4 linked regions of the Homo sapiens genome follow. The protein of the gene in region 1 interacts with the protein of each later gene in a pairwise test. Each region holds a gene or a part of one and is shown in the gene's direction. Other genes may lie near its edges. The genes, in order: LOX, FBLN5, DHDDS and SOS2.

The links.
Region 2: the proteins of LOX (region 1) and FBLN5 interact in a two-hybrid assay, tested with the Homo sapiens proteins (one study listed by IntAct).
Region 3: the proteins of LOX (region 1) and DHDDS interact in a two-hybrid assay, tested with the Homo sapiens proteins (one study listed by BioGRID).
Region 4: the proteins of LOX (region 1) and SOS2 interact in a two-hybrid assay, tested with the Homo sapiens proteins (one study listed by IntAct).

What each region holds. Positions count from the first base shown.
Region 1 is NC_000005.10:122,062,695-122,068,259, reverse strand, and holds the end of LOX (protein-lysine 6-oxidase isoform 1 preproprotein), read left to right. Parts: intron 1-1,510; coding exon 1,511-1,517; 3' UTR 1,518-5,065; downstream 5,066-5,565. UniProt on the Homo sapiens protein: Responsible for the post-translational oxidative deamination of peptidyl lysine residues in precursors to fibrous collagen and elastin. Regulator of Ras expression. May play a role in tumor suppression. Plays a role in the aortic wall architecture.
Region 2 is NC_000014.9:91,874,669-91,881,711, reverse strand, and holds part of FBLN5 (fibulin-5 isoform 1 precursor), read left to right. Parts: intron 1-293; coding exon 294-420; intron 421-4,029; coding exon 4,030-4,225; intron 4,226-7,043. UniProt on the Homo sapiens protein: Essential for elastic fiber formation, is involved in the assembly of continuous elastin (ELN) polymer and promotes the interaction of microfibrils and ELN. Stabilizes and organizes elastic fibers in the skin, lung and vasculature.
Region 3 is NC_000001.11:26,456,299-26,463,341, forward strand, and holds part of DHDDS (dehydrodolichyl diphosphate synthase complex subunit DHDDS), read left to right. Parts: intron 1-1,492; coding exon 1,493-1,607; intron 1,608-3,738; coding exon 3,739-3,846; intron 3,847-6,457; exon of another isoform or gene 6,458-6,572; intron 6,573-7,043. UniProt on the Homo sapiens protein: With NUS1, forms the dehydrodolichyl diphosphate synthase (DDS) complex, an essential component of the dolichol monophosphate (Dol-P) biosynthetic machinery.
Region 4 is NC_000014.9:50,158,570-50,165,612, reverse strand, and holds part of SOS2 (son of sevenless homolog 2), read left to right. Parts: intron 1-4,003; coding exon 4,004-4,131; intron 4,132-5,526; coding exon 5,527-6,182; intron 6,183-6,966; coding exon 6,967-7,043.

The sequences.
Region 1 (5,565 bases):
TTGCTCCAGCAATATGACTGTACAAGAGGGATTCCTGATGTGGTCACTCATATAGAGTTGAATTTTTTTTTTTTTTTTTTTTTTTACTAGTTATTACTGACTGTAACAAACTTCAAGAGTGGTTGAAGCTGGAATGTTTATAACTAATATAAACCAGATGAAAATATGAAAAGTGAAATTATAATTAGTGATCATAATAAAATGTCATACTTATTCTGAGTGGAAATATTGGGGAAAGTATAGAATATTTGAGAAAAAAACCCCACACCTTCAGGATAGTAATACTTGCTTCTTACATTTTGACTTTCACATCAGGCCTTCCTTCCTAGGAATCAGAGTTCAGACAGAGGAGAGGTCTCTTTGGGCTGAGTTTCAGGAGTGACTTTAGGATACATTTGAATTGAGCCTTGAAGTCTGGGGAATGCACCGGGGAGCATTAAGGAAAGGAAGCCCAGGGCAAGTCAACGTCACAGGCAACTTGCATGGCAGGAGGAAACTGCAGGGCATGTTTGGAAAAACAAGTCTTCTAGTTTGGCTAAAGCATGAATTTTGTGGAGTTACGAGTTGGACAAAAAGGATGGAAAAGTAAGTTGAGCCAGATGGAAGACAGCCCTGAAGAGCAGGCTAAAATTTATTCTGGAGGCAGTGGGAGGCTGAAGCTTTTTGAGCAGGAAGTGTAACTTGCCTAAGGCCATCAGGTCAGTCTGGTGGCTGTGTAAGCAGCAGTGAGTGTGACTCTGAAGACATATCATGTATCAGTTCACTGATTGCTTTTCCTGCCAGATATTTAAGAGCATTCTGTTGATGTGTAAAAGCCACCCAGTAAATAGTTGAATAGGTATGTGCTGTTAATGTACCCTCTCTCCTTCATTTTCCTCACTGAAACAAAATGTACGGACCAGGTGACTCTGAGGCTTCTTTCAGTTATAAGATACTATGTAAGTTTTTTTTTTTCTCCTCACAGAATTTACTGTTTGGAAATTGGTAGTTTATGATTTGAATAAGTGAATTTTCACTTCCTTACATGAAGATCTATGGTCACATTTAAAGACAGTAATATTTGATTGATTAGCTTTGGTCCAGTTTCTGCCTATTAATGTATTATTCTACATCCAAAGCCATGCTGGAGAAGGACTAATTCAAGATGGAGCAGAGGCCTTGACTCTACTTCTTGGTGGACATGCCACCCTTGTTCCATGGAATGAATTCCCCTGGTCAGGGATGCTGGTCCCAGAAGTCCTGCTGTACTCTTGAGTGTTTCAGAAGTGGTTTCTTTGCCTCTAAATGTGAAGAGTGTAGGCATCAGGCATCTCTGCTGTTGACATAGTCACTTTCTTCAAACCATTATTAAAATGATGTACTACTGCATAATTTCACAACATGATTGCTGCTTAGGTGGAGGGAAACTGTTGCATAAAGTTTTTAAAAGGTTGACTTTAAATTTGTCTGTTGTACTCATTCATTATATTATCAGGTTAATAATTTGTCTTATTTTGTCTTCTTAATCTAGGTATTAGAAGGCAAAGCAAAACTCCCAATGGATAAATCAGTGCCTGGTGTTCTGAAGTGGGAAAAAATAGACTAACTTCAGTAGGATTTATGTATTTTGAAAAAGAGAACAGAAAACAACAAAAGAATTTTTGTTTGGACTGTTTTCAATAACAAAGCACATAACTGGATTTTGAACGCTTAAGTCATCATTACTTGGGAAATTTTTAATGTTTATTATTTACATCACTTTGTGAATTAACACAGTGTTTCAATTCTGTAATTACATATTTGACTCTTTCAAAGAAATCCAAATTTCTCATGTTCCTTTTGAAATTGTAGTGCAAAATGGTCAGTATTATCTAAATGAATGAGCCAAAATGACTTTGAACTGAAACTTTTCTAAAGTGCTGGAACTTTAGTGAAACATAATAATAATGGGTTTATATATGTCATAGCATAGATGAATTTAGAAACAATGCTCCTACTGTTTAAATACATATGGACACATCTGGTGCTGAGAAAGAAACAAACACATTACCATTGGTGTCAAGAAATATTACTATATAGCAGAGAAATGGCAATACATGTACTCAGATAGTTACATCCCTATATAAAAAGTATGTTTACATTTAAAAAATTAGTAGATAACTTCCTTTCTTTCAAGTGCACAATTTCATTTTGACTTGAGTCAACTTTTGTTTTGGAACAAATTAAGTAAGGGAGCTGCCCAATCCTGTCTGATATTTCTTGAGGCTGCCCTCTATCATTTTATCTTTCCCATGGGCAGAGATGTTGTAAGTGGGATTCTTAATATCACCATTCTTGGGACTGGTATACATAAGGCAGCCGTGAAACTGGAAAGTCATTTTGATGACTGATGTGATACATCCAGAGGTAAAATGCATTTAAACATATTAAAGTATTTGCCAAAGATACAATTTTCTTGCTGACATAAAAATCACACAAACAAGTCCCCCCCAAACCACAACTGTCTCTCAAATAGCTTAAAAAAATTGAAAAACATTTTAGGATTTTTCAAGTTTTCTAGATTTTAAAAAGATGTTCAGCTATTAGAGGAATGTTAAAAATTTTATATTATCTAGAACACAGGAACATCATCCTGGGTTATTCAGGAATCAGTCACACATGTGTGTGTGTCTGAGATATAGTCTAAATTAGCAAAGCACATAGTATTACATACTTGAGGGGTTGGTGAACAAAGGAAAAATATACTTTCTGCAAAACCAAGGACTGTGCTGCGTAATGAGACAGCTGTGATTTCATTTGAAACTGTGAAACCATGTGCCATAATAGAATTTTGAGAATTTTGCTTTTACCTAAATTCAAGAAAATGAAATTACACTTTTAAGTTAGTGGTGCTTAAGCATAATTTTTCCTATATTAACCAGTATTAAAATCTCAAGTAAGATTTTCCAGTGCCAGAACATGTTAGGTGGAATTTTAAAAGTGCCTCGGCATCCTGTATTACATGTCATAGAATTGTAAAGTCAACATCAATTACTAGTAATCATTCTGCACTCACTGGGTGCATAGCATGGTTAGAGGGGCTAGAGATGGACAGTCATCAACTGGCGGATATAGCGGTACATATGATCCTTAGCCACCAGGGCACAAGCTTACCAGTAGACAATACAGACAGAGCTTTTGTTGAGCTGTAACTGAGCTATGGAATAGCTTCTTTGATGTACCTCTTTGCCTTAAATTGCTTTTTAGTTCTAAGATTGTAGAATGATCCTTTCAAATTGTAATCTTTTCTAACAGAGATATTTTAATATACTTGCTTTCTTAAAAAACAAAAAAACTACTGTCAGTATTAATACTGAGCCAGACTGGCATCTACAGATTTCAGATCTATCATTTTATTGATTCTTAAGCTTGTATTAAAAACTAGGCAATATCATCATGGATACATAGGAGAAGACACATTTACAATCATTCATTGGGCCTTTTATCTGTCTATCCATCCATCATCATTTGAAGGCCTAATATATGCCAAGTACTCACATGGTATGCATTGAGACATAAAAAAGACTGTCTATAACCTCAATAAGTATTAAAAATCCCATTATTACCCATAAGGTTCATCTTATTTCATTTTTAGGGAATAAAATTACATGTCTATGAAATTTCAATTTTAAGCACTATTGTTTTTCATGACCATAATTTATTTTTAAAAATAAATTAAAGGTTAATTATATGCATGTATGTATTTCTAATAATTAAAAATGTGTTCAATCCCTGAAATGTCTGCCTTTTAAATATAACACCTACTATTTGGTTAATTTTGACGATTTTTTTTTTTCAATTAGGAAGCTAAAAATACTACTTTATTCCTTATATGAACATTCATCCCCCTCCTGGCACCTCTAAACACACCCAAATAACTCACAAGTACTGATTTAACACTCTGTATTACTGAACTTCTTTGAACTATTTTGAACTTTGAATCTCTTCTCTGAATAACTGCCGAAACTCAAAGATAATAATTAGTTGATGAAGGTTATCAATTAATAAAATAACACAGACCAGTCTTACCAAACTCTAAATACATTTTAAAAAATAGGAACTGGCAATGATAAAAAGAATGTTGAGTACTGACAGGAGATTGGCTTTTACACTAAAAAAGACAGAAAATGGACTAAATAGGAACATAATTTCAGAGTTTATGAGTCAGTTTACAATATGCCATATTAGCGATCTCATGATGATTCAGACCACAGTCTGGGTTAAAGATGTCTTGACCTCTGAGGCTAGCATAACATATATGAGAATACAACTTGCCTATTTCCAGAAAATCTGTATATTTTTATAGAATAACTTTATTTACAATTTCTATCATCCAATTACTCACTAGGCATTATTTGTAGTACTTTTTTTCTCTTTGAAATCTCATAGGATAGTCACACTTATAAACATTCCCAATATTCGGATTCTAGAAGAAATGCAATTCATTAAAATTTTCCTGGCACTGAGAGTTAATCTTTAGCAGATTGCATGAAAATACTGAATTCCTGGTAAGGAGATATTTTGTTTTAAAAATAATGTGTTTTGATACGAATCAGTGTATTAACTGATAACTAAAAAGTACTCTTTTTTCTATATATACATATTTTTTTGAACTCATATTCACAATCAACATATTCAATCAGTGAGTTAAGTCTCATTCCTAGCTACCAAAATTCCTGGGCCACTTTTAAACACTAAACATTTCATTTATCCTCTAAGCTAAAATGGTGCTGAGTTATTTAAATCTGAATGTAAAATGCATTAAATCTTAGCTTGTGGTATATAAACATTTAATTAATATAAAACTGCTTGCTATAAACTAAGTAACATGTCATTTGGTGTTAGGTTTTTAGTGAAGTTTTAGCTTCTCCCAAATTTTTCAGGAATGTTATTTGTAAGACGTGTAACTTTTTTGAAGAACTCTTATTTTAAATGCTCAGACATTGGCTTTATGTTCCTCTTTGCATTCTCATATTCTTTTATTATACATCTATACTATGATTGCAAGATTATATAAAAATGCCTTGAATAAATGATTTCAAGTGTCTATAGTAGTCATTTGTTGTTATATAAATAAATCATCTGATTTTCATTTTAGTTGAAATGTTATAAGCCATGGATATGGTGTTAGTTTCTCTTAATTGCCTTTTGTACTAAAAAATTGTTTAATTAGGTCACACTGGAAATTTGTCTATGATGGATAAAAATCTAGCTGATGTTTTAAGTAGACACTGTCATACATAAACTTTTATCACCAGTACCAGCTACTTATAAGGACACAGAGCAGGCATTGCAAGAACAATCACACTGCTTTAATTAAGGTTTACAAGAAATATATCTGACTATAGATATAAACACACACATACACACACACACATCTAATTCTAGCTACAAATTATTTGTATAAAGAGACACATTGCTATCATAGTAATCCTTATTTAAATATGCACCAGATTAGCCTGAAATCTGGTAACATGAGAGGGCAAACAGGCCCAAACTTTGGGCAAGTGTTTTGGGGGAACAACTCACAAAATTAACCCACAAAAA
Region 2 (7,043 bases), on another chromosome or scaffold:
AAGTGATCCTCCTGCCTCAGCCTCCCAATGTACCGGGATTACAGACGTAAGCCACTGTGCCTGGCTCACATTATTTCTTGGTACTAAGTCATCAAAATCTGGTGTGTATTTTCTACTTACAGCACATCTCAATTTGGATCAGCCACATTCCAAGTACTCAGTAGCCACATATGGCCTGTTGCTGCCATATTGGATAGTACAGCTCTGTAGTAAGATCCAGCCTACCCCACCCCCACGCGTCTGGCCTGGCCAATAATGCCCTGCCTCCGCTTCTTGTCTCCCCTGCATTTCAGACATCAACGAATGTGAGCACAGGAACCACACGTGCAACCTGCAGCAGACGTGCTACAATTTACAAGGGGGCTTCAAATGCATTGACCCCATCCGCTGTGAGGAGCCTTATCTGAGGATCAGTGATAAGTAAGTCACGGCGTCCCCCTGGGGAATAGAAACCTGATGAGGGCCTGGCTCAGGAGGTTGGAGGTGTGGTGTGAAAGAGAGTGCACCAGCCAGGAAGTGAGGGGACCTGGCCTACTACCTACGTCATGTGCTCATGCGTGTGTGTGTGTGTGTGTGTGTGTGTGTGTGTGTAGAATAGAACAGAGTAGAATAGATAGAACAGACTGGAATAGAAAATATCAGAGTACATTGCACATAGCAAGAGTCAATATTGTTTTTTGAAACTTATCTTTTAGTTTTGTGTGCTACTGGTTTGCAGTGCAAAGTGTGTTACTGTAGGTTGTCAAAAAGTTTGCAAAACATTCCATTCCAAGTTATAGGGTCTGAAACACATCCCTATATACAAGAAAGAACTATTTTTCAAAATGTTTGACCACAACACACAGTAAGAAACACATGCAAGGCTGGGCACGGTGGCTCATGACTGTAATCGCAGCACTTTGGGAGGCTGAGGTGGGTGGATTGCCTGAGCTCAAGAGTTTGAGAGCAGCCTGGCCAACATGGTGAAACCCCATCTCTACTAAAAATACCAAAAAAATTAGCTGGGCCTGGTGGCACGGGCCTGTAGTCCCAGCTACTCAGGAGGCTGAGGCATGAGAATCGCTTGAACCTGGGAGGAGGAGGGTACAATGAGCTGAGATCGTGCCACTGCAGTCCAGTCTGGGTGACAGAGTGAGACTCTGTCTCAAAACACACACACACACACACACACACACACACACACACGCACGCACACTCCCACAGAGTTCTCTATCACTCCGCTACTCATGCCAGAGCTATGCAAAGATTCTCTAGAAAGCTAACCAAGCCGAGAGTTGAGTCAGGGTTCTAGAATCTCCTCTTCCCTCTAATGACTTTGTTCTGGATACATGGGGTCTTTCAGAGGTTGGCTTCTAAATGTAACACTCATAGGACTCACCTGGTGATCTCGTTAAAGTGTGATTCAGTGGGTTTGGGGTGGGGCCCAAGATTCCGCCTTTCTGGCAAGCTCCCAGGTGAAATGAATGCTTCCAATCTCCCTGGACTGCTCCGTGAATATTGAGGTGCTGGAGAGTTGAGTATTGAGGTGCTGGACAGTTGAGTATTGAGGTGCTGGAGAGTTCTCTCGTTGGTGCTAATCAAGTTTCTGACGTCATCTTGGTCAACATTTTACTAAATCACCAGACGGCAAATATTAGAGTTGAGGAGAGAATTAAAGTGAAGACAACTTCCAAAAGGTGAATGCAGTAGGACAGTGGCTTTCTGTTCCTGGCATAGTAGGAGTTCCTTTTCCTTCTCTTTTATCCCTTTTTTAAACCATCTCAGTTCCTCCTTGGCCTCCTATATTCCAAATGTTCACACATCGACTTCCCTTGAGCAACACCAAACCCCGCATGGGAGACGAAAGGATGAATCAGACACACCCATCCTGCCCTCTCGGAATACAGCCTCTAAGAGAGGAATTCATGGCTTACCAGTGGTACCCACTTTGATAACAAATTGGCAAAAGAGAGGATAATGCCGGGACAGGCGGATCCTTTAGGGACATCTTCACTTGTTGCTAAGAGCTGTGCTACTAAGCAACCCTTTAGAACAGGGCTCTTTGACCCCCGACGTAAGGCCTGTTTGTGGCAGAGCAGAGCTCCAGGCTGCTCTTCCCAGCTTCTATTCCTGGTTCTCTCTGGGTTTTTCCAGGCCACCCCGTCTGTGGCTGGGGAGCTGACCCATTTCAGCTTGCAGCACTGAGCTGGAGTTACTGGTGGAGTCTCTGGCATGACGCTGACAATGCTCCGTGACTCCCTCACTCCAGGCTCCAGTCCAGTCAGACTCCGGCAGCCCCTTCCAGCTCCTTGTCCAGTTCAGGTGTCCTGTGCTCCTGCCAGTCTGAACAGGACTTGCTCATGCCTTTACCCGTGCCCAGGAATGGCCAGCCTCCCTTCTTGTGTGCACATACTTCCGGCCATATGGAAGGCATTCCTTTCATTTCCACATAGCCAGTCCTGCCCCATCTTTCAGATTTCAGCTCAGATGCCACCTCTCCCAGCTGTTTGTGGTCCTCTTCAGCTGGGAGCCATCACTCCCTCCTCCAAACTTCTTTTAGGAAACAATGATTTTCTATGCTGCACATGATACTTTATTGTGGCCATTTTGGCACTAGAGACATTTTGACTTGGCTATTTTGATGCAGCCTTAAAAAAATGAAACTTGCTCTGCCACCCAGGCTGGAGCGCAGTGGTGCAATCACAGCTCATTGAAGCCTCAACCTTTTGGGCTCAAACAATCGTCCTGCCTCAGCCTTTTAAGTAGCTAGGACTATGGGTGTGTGCCAGTGCTCCTGGCATATATATGTATTTGGTAAAGCCAGAGGTCTTGAACTCCTGGACTCAAGTCATCCTCCTGCCTCAGCCTTTCAAAGTGCTGGGATTATAGGCATGAGACACCATACTCTGCTCAGAATGAATGGAAATTTATAAAAAGGAAGAGTAGGCTGGATGGTTTAGATGGAGGAGTCCAAAGGCCTCTCTGAAAAATGACACTTGGGCTGGAATGGGAAAATGAGTTGACTTTAACTAAATAGAGAGTGGAAGATCAGAAGGAACAGCATGTGCAAAGGCGAGAAGGCAAGAGTGCATTGAAGGCACTGGAGATGGTTGGATGTGGACTCTCTTTTGGAAGTAGAACCAACAGGTTTTGTGGATAGATTGGAAGTTAGTGGCAGAAACACAGCAAGGTTGACTCCTAGCGTTGGCCACCACCGCGCGTCTCAACAGACATCTTCATCCTATTGTGAACCCTGGCCCCTAGGTGGAGTCTCAGGGCAGGGTCAGAGACAGAGGAAGGGGGTGTTAGGGGTGAATCAAGGGGTGTCTATAACAGGCATTCTTTGGTAGTAAAAGTCAGTGATTTTATATTAGGGCACTCTGTTAATAGTTGCTTTGTATTAGAGATATTTGTGTCTGTGGTTTATTTCTCCTATTAGAAAGTAAACTATCTGAGGTCAGGATCTTATTATTCATTGAATTTCCAAAATGTCCAATGTCACATCTTGTACATAGTTCTAACTCTTGCTTATCAATTATCGAATGACAAGATTTGATTATATTCGATTCAGTAACATTCCATGCAGACTGGGCTGAGCACAATAGAGAATGTACAAGGATCCCCAAGACCTGTTAATCCAGTTTCTTACTTTAAAAATTTCTTTCTTTCTTCCTTTTTTTTTGTTTTGTTTTTTTGAGACAGGGTCTTGCTCTGCCGCCCAGGCTGGAGTGGCATATTTGGCCTACGTGGCAAATGTAAAGTATCTTGGAGAATGTTCTAATGTTCTGAAAACCAGAGATCTAAGGTTTGTATTCTATTTAGTAGCCAGAACATCTGGTTGGTGAGAAAAGTCCATTCTCTAGGAAACAGAGCTCGCCTACATGCTGGAGAGATTTTAGACTCAAGCCAGGAGCAGAGACATTCTACAGTTATGGCATTTGGATGCTAAAAATGGGGTGGCCTCATTTTCAGTGTTTTAAGAGAGGAAGTAGGCACAGCCAGCACCTGGAATGGATTTCTTGAGTTCTCACGTGATTTCCCTTTCCACAGCCGCTGTATGTGTCCTGCTGAGAACCCTGGCTGCAGAGACCAGCCCTTTACCATCTTGTACCGGGACATGGACGTGGTGTCAGGACGCTCCGTTCCCGCTGACATCTTCCAAATGCAAGCCACGACCCGCTACCCTGGGGCCTATTACATTTTCCAGATCAAATCTGGGAATGAGGGCAGAGAATTTTACATGCGGGTAAGAGGGAGTGGGGAGTGGGGACGCCATCTGTAACAGTGGCCTTGTGCTGTCTCTCCTAGGAACGTGCTGTATGCAAGCAGGTAAGAGTGGGGCTGGGGGACAGGTAGGCAGAGAGAAGAGTGGAGGGTGTGGTTCAAGGTCCTGGTTTCCACCACTTTCTGTGTAGTCTTGCAAAAGATGCTTCTCCTCCTGAGCCTCAGGATCCTCATCTGTGAAATGGGAAGTTAGGCCAAGATGCAATCTTAGGTCTCTTTTCTCCTAATATTCTGTTGGAGAGGCATTCACGTCTCCACTTTTCAACCAACCCATGTGACAAGTATTTCTTAAGTACCTCCTATGCAGGCCAGGCACGGGGGCTGATGCCTGTAATCCCAGCACTTTGAGAGGCCAAGGTGGACAGATTGTCTGAGCTCAGGAGCTCAAGACCAGCTTGGGCAACATGGCAAAACTCTGTCTCTACAAAAAAAAAAGTTAGCCGGTCATGGTGGCAGGCACCTGTAGTCTCAGCTACCTGGGGCAGTGTGGCGGGGAGGTGGTGTGAGATGGGAGGATTGCTTGAGCCCAGGAGGTCGAAGTTGCAGTGAGCTGAGATCACACCACTGTACTCCAATCTGGGCAACAGAGCGAGACCCCATCTCTGAAAAACAATAAAAACTTGGTGACTTAAGGCAAAGGAAATTTATTCTCTCATAGTTCTGGAAGCCAGGAGTCTGAAATCAGTTTCACTGAGCTGAAATCCAGGTGTCAGCAGGGCTGTGCTCCCTCTGGAGGCTCTAGAGGAGAATCCGTTCCATATCTCTTCCAGCTTCCGGGGGCCGCCAGCACTTCTTGACTGTGGCTGCATCACTCCAATATCTGCCTCTGTGGTCACGCTGCCTCCTCTTCCTCCTCTGTGTGTATCAAATCTCCCTTTGTCTCCTTCTTATATTAACACCTGCGAGTAGATTTAGGGCCCATTCAAACAATCCAGATAATCTCTCTGTCCAGATTCTTAATCACATCTGCAAAAACCCTTTTCCTTATAACGGAACGGGTTCCAAGGATTTAGGACTTGCATCTTTTTGGGGGCTACTACCCAGCATACTGCACCCAGGAATCTGCATTTCTAACAGATGCTGCTGTGATCTTCCAGGGTCACTGTGGGGAGCCATATTGAAAAGGTCCATGGGCGTTTATATGCTTTCATTAGAGACTGGGCCCTATGAAGTCATGGGCCACAAGGCAGGAAGACAGAAATCTTCCCGATAAGGCTGGCTTTCCGAGGGTCCATGCTGTCTGAAGCTGCGGGACCCTCCCCGGGAAACCACTCAGTCATTCTAATGTGAGCTCTGGAGCCATGTCTTCTACAGTTTAACAATTTCACAATTGTGTGATGTGACCTAACACCTCTGGACCTCTAGATGAGTGTTTACTTTAGGATTAGATGAGATTATCCACTTAGTGCCCTATCTGGAATACAGTTTTTATCAAAGAAGTGGAGTTTGGTGGTGGGGGTGAAACAGTCAATGACTTTTTCTTTTTCTCACGCTGTTGGATCAAACCTGTGAGCACCTGGGTTACATCTCACGTCAATTCCCTAGGATTCACAGGCATGTTCCATTTCTATTGGATTGTCTCATTCTCTCACGTCAAAAGTCTGTACTAGTTTAAATGGAAACTTCAACCTCTCTGTCTCTTACCCACTGTGAAGTTTCTCCCTGTCTCCTAGTTCAGAGCAGGCAAGGGGTGTGGTTGGCCTCTGCCCTGTCCTCTTGTCACCCTCCCGGTAATGGTAGTGCTGGCCCTGGCTCCTCCAGGGCTGGCAGGGGAGGAGCAGGTGGTAGAAAGGGTAAGGCTGGAAGAGTGAGGCTCCTCCCCGATTGTAGCCATTGTAACCAGGCATTGGTATTCCCTCAGGAGCAGAGCCCCCAAAGCTGTTGCTCTCACAGGGTGCTTTTGTGGGTCTTTTGGAGATTTGCCTGAGGACTTCACACTGACCAGTCCCTGATATGGGCAGTAGGGCCTGTGGTTGGTCACCTGCTACTCCAAACCTCTCAGCCCCTAATTCTGGGGCTATGTCTCATACAGATGTGCCGTGGTGGTAGTGAGGTGGAGGGTATCACTGCATCCTGGCAGCAGACCTTACACAAGGGCCTTTCAGGATGTCAACATCAGCTCCTTGCATTCCCCGTTCCTCTCTATGGTGTGGGGCAGCTCAGGGCTCACATCTCCAGACTTCTCCTGGAGACAGTCTGGTACCACTTTCTGCATCCTTGAACTTCAGGGGCCTGCATCTCTAAACAGTTTTTCTTTTTTTGAAAACCCCTCTTGATTGAGATGGAGGCTAGTAAGTGTGTTTAATAAAATATATGTAGAGTTGGGCACAGGGGCTCATGCCTGTAATCCCAGCTACTCTGGAGGCTGAAGTGGGAGGATCCCTGGAGCCCGGGAGTTCAAGTCCAGCCTGGGCAACATAGTGAGACCCTGTCTCTACAAAAAAAGATTAAAAAATTAGCCAGGTGTGGTGGCATGACCTGTAACCACAGCCACTCTGGAGGCTGAGATGAGAAGATAACTTGAATCCAGGAGTTCAAGGCTGCAGTGAGCTATGATTGCACCACTGCACTCCAGCCTGGGTGGCAGAGCGAGACCCTGTCTCTAAAAACAAAAACAAACAAACAAAAAAGTATGTATGTAGGCTGGAGGGGGTGATGGAATGAGGGAAACATCTGGCTTTGGATCACAGCTTTGTAAGTCCTGTATAACCCCAATAACTCCACACACAGCATCAGCAGCAAGCCGTGTATAGTGCCTGTATGTGCCAGACACTATTCTA
Region 3 (7,043 bases), on another chromosome or scaffold:
AAGGTGGAGGTTGCAGTGAGCTGAGATCACACCACTGCACTCCAGTCTGGGCAACAGAGGGAGACCCTGTCTGGAAAAAAAATAAAATATGTTTTCTGTTTTTTTTTGTTTTGAGACAGAGCCTCGCTCTGTCACTCAGGCTGGAGTTCAGTGGCATAATCTGGGCTTACTGTAACCTCCACCTCCTGGGTTCAAGCGATTCTCCTGCTTCAGCCTCCCAAGTAGCTGGGACTACAGGCATGCGGCACCACACCCAGCTAATTTTTGTACTTTTGGTAGAGATGGGGTTTCACCTTGTTGGCCAGGCTGGTCTCAAACTCCTGATCGCAGGTGATCTGCCTGCCTCAGCCTCCCAAAGTACTGGGATTACAGGCATGAGTCACCACGCCTGGCCAAAAAAAGTTATTTACATAAATTCAAACAATAACAGAAGTACATAAAGTAAAAAGAAATAGTCTTTTCTTCCTTACTTCTTATCCAATCCACTGTTAATAGTATGATGTATCTTTTTAGACTTTGTTCTTTATGTATACTTATATGCACGTGTGAATGTTTGAATGTGTGTGTATGTTTTATACTATATATTCTCTGAAACTTGCCTTTTACATTTAACATTAGATTTTGGACATCTTTCCAAATCAGTGCATTTAGATTTATCTTTATTTTTAGAATGCAGTTGCATAGTATTTCATCAAATACTGGGCCATAGGATGTATGTATGTATTTTAAAAAACAAGATGTTTTTAGCAAAAGACAACAGATATTTTTGTGGGTGCATCTGGTTTTAGGCCTGAGGCTAAATGACTTTCAGCAAATTATTCATCTTTGAGCCTCAGTTTCCTTATCTATAAAATGAGGATAGAAATACCTTATGTATCTGCTGAGCATGGTGGCTCATGCCTGTAATCCCAGCACTTTCAGAGGCCGAGGGGGGGGCGGATCACGAGGTCAGGAGATCGAGTCCATCCTGGCTAACATGGTGAAACCCTGTCTCTACTAAAAATACAAAAAAAAAAAAAAACAAATTAGCAGGGTGTGGTGGCGGGCACCTGTAGTCCCAGCTACTCGGGAGGCTGAGGCAGAATGGCATGAACCTGGGAGGCAGAGTTTGCAGTGAGCCGAGATCGTGCCACTGCACTCCAGCCTGGGGAACAGTGTGAGACTCTATCTCAAATAAATAAATAAATAAATAAATACCTTATGTATCAGAACATGTCAAAAAAGGCAAAAAATAAAAAAGAGAAAAGAATTTTACATTGTATTCTCTAAAAAAAAAAAAAAAAAAGAAATACCTTATGTAGTTGTGAAGATTTAAATTCATTCATTAATTTAGCAAACATTTTTTGAGGGCCTTCTGTGTAGTATTGGCTAGTGTATTTGATGGTATTGTATAAACTGAGAAGCCTATATATGGAAGTTCACCATGAGAACACTACAGAAAGAGAATACTACAGGATGTGTGCCTCTCTTTGTCTCTTCTTGCTCATCTTAGTGATATCTCTGAGTCTCTGCTTGATAAGTGCCTCTATACCAACCGCTCTCCTCATCCTGACATCTTGATACGGACTTCTGGAGAAGTGCGGCTGAGTGACTTCTTGCTATGGCAGGTAGGTCATTTCCAAGTACTATTATGTTTGTGTCATGGGGAAACCAACTGTATCCACAGAATGGATCAGAGTGGTCCATCCCCACTCCCAAACAGGCTGGGGCCAGAGTACTTCTGGGGAAAGCTAAAATCTGGAGAAGCATCTCTAGGCTGTGTCTCATAATATTTGATGTCCATTCCTCATCTGTCGCTGGCTTTGCGAATCCAACTATAGTGAAAACTTCATTGTGCCGCTTTTCAAGGAATGGGACTTCTGTCTTGCATCCCTGAGCGTAAGCTCTTGCCTTGGTAACCTGCCAGGGACCCTAGCCCCTCTGGGTTGGAAGCTTGCCTTGCAGTTACTAGTCCCTCCCCTTCAGGATAAAGGGCCATACCTATGCAAGCATGGTAAACAATATGCAAACACTCAAGTCTCTATCCCCTGTTAACTTGGTCCCTGGAGAGCACATAACTAGGGGAAGTCCTTGTTCTGGGAGAGACTCCATTTGGAAGCAGCTCACATGATAAAGCTCCAGAAATTTTAATGGACCACAATCTTAAAAGTGAGCTAACGCAGGGCGTGGTGGCTCACGCCTGTAATCCTAGCACTTTGGGAGGCTGAGGCAGGCAGATCACTTGAGGTCAGGAGTTTGAGACCAGTCCAGCCAACATGGTGAACCCCTGTCTCTACTAAAAATACAGAAATTAGCCTGGCATGGTGGCAGGTGCCTGTAGTCCCAGCTACTTAGGTGAATGAGGTGGGAGAATCACTTGAACCTAGGAGGCAGAGGTTGCAGTGAGGCGAGATCGTGCCACTGCACTCCAGCCTGGGCAACAGAGTGAGACTCTGTCGCAAAAAAAAAAAAAAAAAAAGAAAAGAAATAAGTACAATGTGCACCTATTGGTTCTGTGGCCCACTGTGCTGCTCAGATCACGTTTGGGAAGTTTACTGATGGGCTGAATTTTAAGAGACTACAGAGTCAGTTACTCAGTGTACAGAATTAGTTACATTGACAAACTTGAGGACTTACTGGAAGAGGCCAAACTGGAAAGCAAGGAATCTCATGTCTTACAAAAAATGAGGAAAGGATAGTGGTCTGCAAAAGGGAAATAAGTGACAATGTATTCCCTTGGAAAAAAGTGTTGAGTTCCTTCTTTATGCTGGAAATATGGCAGTGAGTGAGTCAGAAATGATCCCTACTGTCTTGAAACTTATAGTTTGCTAGCAAAGACAAACTCTGAACAAGTCATTACAACTTTGGGAACTGATAACAGGCAGCTCTAATCTAGCCTTGAAATACTTGAAAGAATGTCACTTTGAAGAAGAAACAAACTTGTTCCAGAAAAAATACCTGGGACCTTAGTAGAAGTTGTAGGGAAGGTGACATTGGTTTAGCATAAAAAGCCAAACAGGCTATCGGACAACTAGTTATCCCCCATGAGGTACTGAATTCCTCACCACTAGAGATATCAGGCAGTGGCTGTCAAGAGTGTTCCAAAGGGGATTCTTCATCAGTGATTATTATTAAAGTACACCTGGCTCTTTGCTATGCATATGTTATCTCATTTAATCTAAACAGTACCCTGAAAATTAGGTATTCCTATTATCCAGTTTTACATTTGAGGAATCTCAGGCCAGGTGAAATTACCCCTGCTCAAATAAATGGTAAATGGTTGGAGCCAAAATTCAAAGCCAGGCAGTCTGGCTCCAGAGCTCATGCTCTCAACCACTGTGCCCTGCTGCTGGTACTTAAAAATAACAATGGCAGCTACCATTTGTTCATTGGTGACCTTTATCAGACAGTATGTCTTCCAGATGCCCTCTAAGGGCCAAGAGCCAATAACATAATCCAGATGTTATTTCATAGTCCTAAAATTGGCTCTTAGAAAAATCCTGGTGGAAATGTTGATCTAGTCTCGTTTTAGTTCTGCTTTACCACAGGCAGGTGATCTGGCTGCCTCAAGTGACGCCTCCCCCTACTAGTGAATGAATCAGGGCCAGCAGCAGCTGCAGCTACAGCTCAGGATGCCTGTAACATTGTCATCTCTGGGCTTCTGGGTCCTGCTTAGCCTGCTTTTTCCCTGGAGGACTGACCAGGGATGCGGCCCAGCAACATGTTACTAAATCATACTCTCCTCCCTACCTTTCCCAGACCTCTCACTCCTGCCTGGTGTTCCAACCCGTTCTGTGGCCAGAGTATACATTTTGGAACCTCTTCGAGGCCATCCTGCAGTTCCAGATGAACCATAGCGTGCTTCAGGTAAGAAAGAGTTCAGGGCTGGCCAGATGGGATGGGATGGAAGAAAAGATTAGCATTGATTGACAACCACCTTACTATATACCAGGCACTTCCTAATAAGATGATGATAATGATGATAGTAGCTACCACCTACTGAGTATCTACTACTTGTCAGGCACTGCGAACATTTTACATGCTGCAACTCATTTAATGTTCCCAAGAACCCAATGAGGGAAGTCTTATTAGCCCCTCCCTTATGTAAGTAAGCAAACAGAAATGATTTAGTTAAGGACACATAATCAGTAAGAGGTAGGAATAGGATTTGAGCTACAGGTCTTTTATCTTTTAAAGACTCAGGAGGAAAAGGCTTCTCAGAGAAACTGGCCATTATTCCTTTAAAGTATTACCCTAATAAAAGATCGTAGCAGTAGGGATTAAGAACTAAATAGCATTGTCTTTCCATTGTGTAAACCTATGTTGTGTCAAGACTTGAAGTTTGACTTTCAGTTTTCATCACCAAATCTTGAAACAGGTTTTATTAGCAGTCACCTGTATATGATTAGGTCTCTTTATAATAATGGTAGTGGTAGCTAACATATGAGGATCTACGAGGGCACTTAGGTGATTTCATGTAAGTTTTCTTATTTAACCTAACAACCCAGCAGTTTTGGTGTCCTCATTTTTCATATATGGAACCAGAGGGGCAGAGAGACTTAAGTAACTGTCCCAAGGAACCTGAATTTTATCTTTATTTATTTATTTATTTTGAGATGGGGTTTTGCTCTTGTTGCCCAGGCCGGAGTGCAGTGGTGCGATCTGGGCTCACTGCAACCTCCCCCTCCTGGGTTTGAACGATTCTCCTGTCTCAGCCTCCCAACTAGCTGGGATTACAGGCACACGCCACCATGCCTGGCTAATTTTTGTATTTTCAGTAGAGACAGTGTTTCACCATGTTGGCCAGGCTGGTCTTGAACTCCTGACCTCAGGTGATCCGCCCACCTTGGCCTCCCAAAGTGCTGGGATTACAGGCGTGAAGAGCCTGAATTTTAAAATCAAAGCTGGTGCTGCTTCTTCAGTCTGGAGAGATAATGCCAGGAGGAAATAATGATGTGAGTCAGGGATTCTTAATCTCCTTGGTATTGGGGTCCCTTTGAATAATCTAATGAAAGCCACAGACCATCTCCCTAGAAAAATCGCAGATCACTCAAATGTGGAATTTTGCATAGAATTGTAAACTTATCATGGAAACACATAGAATACTTTTTTTTTTTTTTTTTTTGAGACGGAGTTTCGCTCTTGCGGCCCAGGCTGGAGTGCAATGGCGCAATCTCGGCTCACCGAAACCTCCGCCTCCCGGGTTCAAGTGATTCTCCTGCCTCACCCTCCCGAGTAGCTGGGATTACAGGCATGCGCCACCAATCCCAACTAATTTTGTATTTTTAATAGAGATGGGGTTTCTCCATGTTGGTCAGGCTGGTCTTGAACTCTTTACCTCAGGTGATCCGCCCGCCTTGGCTTCCCAAAGTGATGGGATTACAGGCATGAGCCACCAAGCCCGGCCACACATAGAATACTTTAAGGGGGTTCACATAACTGCTGAAATCTGCCCCTGAATCCCAAGTCCATAACTCCTGCTATAAGTAAATCAAATCACAAAGACTTGATCATGTATTTAATTACTTAGTCTCAGAATATGAGGAAATTAAAAGAAGTTTAGAATTAGTGAAAAGAAAAACAGCAAAGGCACAATTATCCACTGTCAGTGGGGAATGAATATCAGATTTTTCCATATGACCAAAGCTCCCTCTAAAAACTAAAACTTTACCCTTTTTTGATGGAAAAATTTCTAAAATGTATCTTGTACATAATTCATTGAAATCTATATACCAGGCACTTGCTAATAATGATGATGATTAGGATAATCACGTGCTATTTTTTGTTTTTTTTTTTTTTTAGCAGGGTCTCACTCTGTTGCCCAGGCTGGAGTGCAGTTGTGCAACTTTGGCTTACTTCAGCCTCCCAAGTAGCTAGGACTATGGGCACACACCACCATGCCTGGCTGATTTTTGTTATTTTTTGTAGAGATAAGTCCTCACTATGTTGCCCAGGCTGGTCTTGAACTCTTAAGCTCAAGTGATCCTCCTGCTTCGGCCTCCCCAGGTGCTAGGATTATAGACATGAGCCACCATGCCTGGCCGTCATATTCTAATGATTATGATAATAGTAATTATCATCTTTAAACACTTCATTGTACAACAATATCCTTGAGGGGTAGGGCTGTTTGCTCTAAGTTAGATGGTCCCAGAATACCTGGGTTTGAGGTTTCATGTATATTTTTCTGTGTCCTCCCTCTTTCATTTCCTACTGCTGTCAACAGTTAATTTTGACAGTATCTCTCCTCTTCCATAGTATTTACTGTTTTAAATCAGCTATAGACAAGGAAACCAGATAGTCAAGCTTGTTGGAATTATGTATATAAAATGAGAGTGAACTGGCTCTGCATGAAGCCCAAAGGAGCTTGGTGCATGAGTTTTTGTGTTTTTACCTCTAATTGGGCTGCTCAGAAGTCTTTTATAGTAATTTCACGTTTCTCAGATACTTTGCATATGGTTGTCAGAGGAGTTAACTCAAGTTTCATTCATTCCATAAGTATTTATTGAGTAGTATGAATCAGGCACTGTATTAGGCACAGGAGAGTCAACAGGTAGCCAGAGGGACAAGATCTCTACCTTTGTGGAACTTGTATTCTTGAGGAGACAGAAATAAACAAGTAAACAAATATATAAGTTCCGATTGTAATAAGGCAGTGAAGAATACAGAGTGATGTGCTAGAAAGTAATGAAGAGAATGCAAAGAGACTGAGGTTAAAGTTTGGGTCTTGGAAGAACAAAAAAGAGGTCAATGTGCCAAGGGAGAAGGGCAGGAAATGAGGCTAGAGTCAGACCTTGGCTCATATAGAGCCTTGTAGGTCATGGTAACAAAGCTGAAGGACTTTAATCAGGGGATGACGGGATCTGAGTTGCATTTTGTAAAAATCATTCAGAATTTTCAACGGGCTGGAGTTAAAGCCAAGAGACAGAACTCCTGCAGTAGTCCAGGTGAGAGAGGATGCGCCTCGAGGTAGGGTGGTGGCAGTAGGGAAGGGGAGGAGTGAAGACGGGATAAAAACAAATGTTGAAATAGAAACAAGTGAAACTAGCTATATCAAGGTGATAATA
Region 4 (7,043 bases), on another chromosome or scaffold:
AGATGTCAAACAAATAATTACAATATTATAAGAGCCTAATAGAGGTAGTACTATGAGATCAATGAAGCAGGAGTTACTAGCTCTGCTTAGGGAAGGCAGAAAAAAATTCCTATTGATTTTTCCTTTGTTCAGTGGAGTAAAAAAAAATACATAATGGTTTTGGGTATTCGTCCTACTGAGAGAGAGAACAGTGTGTGCGCGGGTGTGTGTGTCCTTATTTATTTGCGGGAGTCATGAAAGACAAATGCTTAGGAACTCTCCAGAATAAAAGAGACAATAGAAACATGACAATTTAGTGCTTCACTGACCAGTTCCTGTTTTGGGGGAAAATATTACCTTAAAGGATGTTATTAAAACAGTTGGCAAAATTGGAATATACACTATAGATTAGATTATGCAGTAGATTACTCGGTGTTAAATTTCCTGAAGTTGATCACTATACTGTGATTCTGTAAAAGAAAATCCTTGTTGTAAGATGAGCTATGAGAAATATTAAAGGAGTAAAGGAGAATGATACTATTTGAGAGTAATTTGTGATACATTTGACTTTTCCTTATATTCCAAAAACTACTGCAAAACCATTCAGCCGTAGTCCCCCTTCCTCTGGAAGGAACTGAGTGGATAGTATCACAACTACTAAAAAAACGATCTGCACACACTGGCACACAGAATGATGAAGCATGTGACAAAATGTTAAAAATTGGTGATTCAGAGTATTACAGGAGTTATTTGTGTTACTTTTACAACTTTTCTATAAATTTGATATTTCAAAAGAAAAAATTTAAGAGGGAAAAGGCATAATCAGAAGGCATCTTCAAGAGGAAGCATTTCAACTGTATCCTAGTGGCTAAATTCACCGGGTGGATAAGGAGGTCAGAGACTGTTGTGTAGAAAGCGAATGGGGGCATGAAAGTACATTACTTGTTTGCACATAGTTCAGTACAGTAATTTTTCTTTTCTTTTTCTTTCTTTTTTTTTTTTGGAGACAGAATCTCGCCTTATCACCCAGGCTGGAGTGCAGTGGTGCTATCTTGGCTTACTGCAATCTCCACCTCCTAGGTTCAAGTGATTCTCATGCCTCAGCCTCCTGAGTAGCTGGGATTACAGGCATGCACCACCACGTCCAGCTAATTTTTTTTTGTATTTTTTATTTTTATTTTCATTTTTTTGCGGGGGACAGAGTCTCACTCTGTCACCCAGACTGGAGTGTAATGGCACAATCTCAGCTCACTGTATTCTCTACCTCCCATGCTTAGGTCATCCTCTCACCTCAGCCTCCCAAATAGCTGGGACTACATGTGCACATCACCACGCCCGGCTAATTTTTGTATTTTTTGTAGAGACAAGGTTTCTCCGTGTGGTCAGGCTGGTCTTGAACTCCTGGGCTCAAGTGATCTGCCCGCCTTGGCCTCCCAGTATGTTGGGATTACAAGTGTGAGCCACCTTGCCTGGCCCAGTAATTTCTGTGTAAGATGTTTGGAACACATTCTTTTAAGTATCTGTAGAATATTAGTTGGATATTCATTAATATGATGTTTATCAAATCTCACTGCTGAAAATTCAAGAAATATTTAGCAAATTATCAGATTATTATGCCAAACAGAGCCGTTGTTTAATATACTTCCATTACCAGGAAATCCCACTCTAAATATCCTCAATTTTGTTCTCCTTTACAGCTTATAATTATTACATGGTTATTTAAAAATGACACGTGGAAGAGTTTGAGCAGCCTTAAGACCAAGTAGACAATGAAAATCATACCTTTTTGGTAGGATATCACTACTGGTGATAATTTAGATATTTGGATAAACAAAAACAAGAATAAAACAGTTCTAATTAAGTGTTTGATGTCATCAACATTCATATTTATTAAAGAAATATTTTAGAGTGGAGCTGAGAAGACTTTCTGTAAGAAATCTTTAAAGCAGCAAAATAAGTGATTTTGCCAGTAACTTTCACCTGTAGAAGTCAGAATAACCAAGCACAGATCTTTTTTCAAACTTTCTATGATATTTTGACTTTGCTTCCATCCTTTCTATTGCTTAGTCTAGAGATTAAGGTATTACTTCTAATAATAGTCATTTACATTATTTATGTTGCTAATCTCTTGATGACAAGACCTCTACATGTGTCTTGAAATAAAATCAAATGGCTCTGTGCTTCATATAGAGACTAATTTCTAAGACATAAATAAAAGGTAATGGACAAAGTTGTCAAACAATAGCCAGTTAGTTCTTTGCTGAGGAAAGGGAACCATTGCTGAATGCTTTTGAGATTGCTCTTGGAATATAAGGAAAATTTTAATTTATCACAAAATCTCTAATAAGTTAAAGATCACAAAATAGATTTAAGTTTTTAAAAATTTTCTGAAGTGATCATAATTCCCCATATCCTTGCATAAATATATATTTATAAATACATAATATATATAATATCTATATGATGTTCCACTTTGAACTCTTCTTTCAAAAGATTAAAACAGTTTGAGGGCAGCCTGGGCAGCATAGTGAGACCCCATCTCTACAGAAAAATTAAAAAAAAAAATTAGCCAAGCATGGTGGCACACATCTGTAGTTCTAGCTACTTGGGAGGCTGAGATGGAAGGATCACTTGAGTCCAGGAGGTTGAGGCAAGGCTGCAGTGAGCCATGATCACCTCACCGTATTCCAGTTTGGGTGACAGAGTGAGACCCTGTCTCAAAAAAAAAAAAAAAAATCAAAACATTGGAGCACAATACAATACAATCTGAATTATTTATTATAAGTAAATTTGCTTTCTTTCTGAGAGTGAAATACAAGAGAACATTTTGGGGCAAATGAAATAGAACCAGAGTTTTAGAGATTAATAAGTCAGTTTCTAAATCTTCTAAAGATTGAGATAGAATTAATTTTCATGGTTTCTTGACATTTCATATTGTAAAAAATAGCAGTGGAATCCTTTGAGAGATGCTGTTTACGGAAAAGTTTATGATAGATTGAAGTGTTAAAAGTTAGTACCCTTGATTATGTTATATAACAAAGATTTGTAAACTTGAAATTGCTAAAACAAAGTAATCATTAGAGAATATGAAATAGTTTATAGTTACTTATTTTCTCTATTCATAGTTGCTAATGAATAAAAGTAAGTTGTAAGCTTCATGCTTTAGGTGTTTTAAACTTTTTAAATATGTTTGGAAAATGTGGCCTGGCACAGTGGCTCACACTTGTAATTTCAACACTTTGGGAGGCAGAGATGGGAGGATAGCTTGAGTCCAGGAGTTTGGGACCAGCCTAGTGAGACCCTATCTCTACAAAAAATAAAAATAAAAAAATTAGCTGGATGTGGTGGCATGCAACTGTGGTCCCAGCTACTCGGGAAGCCTTATGCCCAGGAGATCGAGGCTGCAGTTAGCCCTGCCACTGTATTCCACCCTTGGTGACGGAGTGAGTAAGACCCTGTCTCAAAAAAATAAAAAATAAAAATAAAATGTCCGAATGGTTTTTACAGTTGCTTTTTTTTTTCCTGATTACTATGCTCATGTTAGTTTATATCTGTATTGTGTTTATGTTTATAGAAAGAAGGTTGGGCCAGGACTGGTGGCTCATACCTGTAATCCCAGCACTTTGGGAGGCAGAGGCAGAAGGATAGCTTGAGCAGGTGTTCAAGACCAGCCTGGGAGACATAGCGAGACCCTGTCTCTACAGAAATTTTAAAAATTAGCTGGGTGTGGTGGCATTCGCCTGTGGTCTCAGCTACTTGAGAGGCTGAGAGTGGAGGATCATTAGAACCCAGGAGCTCAAGGCCACAGTGAGTGAGATCCTGTTTCAAAAAAAAAAAAAAAAAAGAAAGAAAAAGGGTTGGTTTGAGAGGGCAGTAGGTATATATAAAATTATAGCTGTTTTTATTAAGTATATATAAAATTAACTTAGAGTTGATAATATTTGTTGCTGCTTTTTCTATTACTAGAAAGTTGGGGGAAGAATCAAACAATGCAGTTTTGATTTTTCTTTCTGTTTTTTCTTAGCAATTGAAAGCATGTAGTGAAGAACAAGAAGACAGAGAATGTTTGAACCAAGCTATTACTGCTCTCATGAATCTCCAAGGTAGCATGGACCGAATTTACAAGCAGTATTCACCTAGACGTCGACCTGGGTAATTCCAAAGTGTTGAAAACGTGAATGCCTCTGCTTACTTCGCTGTCTCTGATGCCTGGTTTTCAAAGAAGTGTGATTTATTGTGATAGTTACATTATTGAAAGTTGTGCTTGTCATACTTTTATATACTTTTATGTTGGTCTTTTACTCTCTTTTTTCCTTTTCCTTTCCTTTTTTTTTTTTTGAGAAGGAGTCTCTCTTGCCCAGGCTGGAGTGCAGTGGTGTAATCTCAGCTCACTGCAACCTGCAGCCTTAGCCTCCTGCGTTCCAATGATTCTCCTGCCTTCGCCTCCCAAGTAACTGGAACTACAGGAGCCCACCACCATGCCCAGCTAATTTTTGTATTTTTAGTAGAGACGGGGTTTTACCGCGTCGGCCAGACTGGTCTCAAACTCCTGACCTCAGCCTCCCAAAGTGCTCGGATTACAGGTGTGAGCCGCTGCGCCCAGCCTTTTTTTCTTTTTTTTAAGAGACAGGGTCTCACTCTGTTGCCCAGGCTGGAGTGCAGTGATGTGATCTCAGCTCACAGCAGCCTCAACCTCCTGGGCTCAAGCAGTCCTCCTGCCTCAACCCTCTGGAGTAGCTGGGACTCGAGTAGCTGGGTGGCACATGCCAACACACCTGCCTAATTTTTGTATTTTTTGTTGAAATAGGGTTTTGCTATGTTGCCCAGGCTGGTCTTGAACTCCTGGGCTCAGGTGATCTGCCTGCTTTGGCCTCCCAGAGTGTTGAGATTGCAGGTCTGAGCCACTGCACCTGGCCAACCCAGCCTAGTCTTAAGATTAGCATTGTTGGCTGGGCACGGTGGCTCACGCCTATAATCCCAGCACTTCGGGAGTCCAAGGTGGGCAGATCGCCTGAGGTCAGGAGTTTGAGACCAGCCTGGCCAACATGGTGAAACCCCATCTCTACTAAAAATACAAAAATTAGCCAGGCGTGGTGGCAGGCACCTGTAATCCCAGCTACTCGGGAGGCTGAGGCAGGAGAATCACTTAAACCTGGGAGGGGGAGGTTGCAGTGAGCCAAGATCGTGCCATTGCATTCCAGCCTGGGGGACAAGAGCTCCAAAAAAAAAAAAAAAAAAAAAAAAAAAAAAAAAAGATTAGCATTGTTATATTATTAGGATAGACTTAATAAATGTTTAAAAATATAATCTATGAAAGAAATTTAGGATTTTTTGTAATTTTAGTTCTTATAGAGCCAGTAGTACTTCTCTTTCATAATAATGAAATTGAGGGCTGTATTATTTAGTGGCAAAGTTAGAACTAAATGCTGTGCGTAAAAGCTACTGTTTGGTTATTTAATATTTTACTCACTTGATTTGAGATGGTTTATGCTTGAAACCATTTGGGTTGCTAGCTGTTGAATAAGCTATATTGTTTGTTTTTTCTAGAGATCCTGTTTGCCCTTTTTATAGTCACCAATTAAGAAGCAAACACCTGGCTATCAAAAAAATGAATGAAATTCAGAAAAATATCGATGGATGGGAAGGCAAAGATATTGGACAGTGTTGTAATGAATTCATTATGGAGGGACCATTGACAAGAATCGGTGCCAAACATGAACGGCATATTTTTCTGTTTGATGGCTTAATGATCAGTTGTAAACCTAATCATGGCCAGACTCGGCTTCCAGGTTACAGTAGTGCAGAATACAGGTTAAAAGAAAAATTTGTCATGAGGAAAATACAAATTTGTGATAAAGAAGATACTTGTGAGCACAAGCATGCATTTGAATTAGTATCCAAAGATGAGAACAGCATAATATTTGCTGCTAAGTCTGCTGAAGAAAAAAACAACTGGATGGCAGCCCTTATTTCTCTTCATTATCGTAGTACTCTAGATCGAATGTTAGATTCAGTATTATTGAAAGAAGAAAATGAGCAACCACTGAGATTACCAAGTCCTGAAGTATATCGTTTTGTAGTAAAAGACTCTGAGGAAAACATTGTTTTTGAAGACAACTTGCAAAGTAGAAGTGGCATCCCCATTATTAAAGGAGGAACTGTAGTGAAATTAATTGAAAGGTTAACATATCATATGTATGCAGGTATGTGAAACTCATTACAACTGCTGACCTAGGGCCTGGGACCCAAAAGCTTTTTAAGGATGCTCAAAAATATTTGAGGCTTGGGGAAAAAATGGATTGCCTCCAAAATATAAAAATACTGCAAAAACAAAAGGAATAAATAAGAGAAGGAATTAAAGGTCTAAAAATGTAATATTGTTAACTTCATTAATTATTGAATAAATATTCATAAAATATGCATATTCATGAATTTTTTTTTTTTGAGACAGAGTCTTGCTCTGTTGCCCAGGCTGGAGTGCAGTGGCGCTATCTCTGCTCACTGCAAGCTCCACCTCCTGGGTTCACGCCATTCTCCTGCCTCAGCCTCCCGAGTAGCTGGGACTATAGGCGCCCGCAACAATGCCCGGCTAATTTTTTTTTTCTTTATTTTTAGTAGAGATGGGGTTTCACCGTGTTAGCCAGGATGGTTTCGATCTCCTGACCTCGTGATCCGCCCACCTCGGCCTCCCAAAGTGCTGAGATTATAGGCGTGAGCCACCTCACCCAGCCATATTCATGAATTTCAAATTTGAAAACAATCCTCGCTTATTAAGGATATACCATAGTATATTCTCTATGTCAGTATTTCTCTATGTATGGCAGGGATACCATGGTATCCTGCCAGTACCATGATTGTTAGGAAAAGCCACAATCTGAGGAGCCAAAGTAAAAAGAAAAAGGGAGGAAGGCCTCCAAATATGGTACTTTGAGTTAATTAAACTGAATACATTAAACATGAAACCTATTTTATGCTCTGCCTTTTCAGATCCCAATTTTGTTCGTACTTTTCTTACCACATATCGTTCATTTTGTAAACCACAGGAATTGCTGAGCTTACTGATT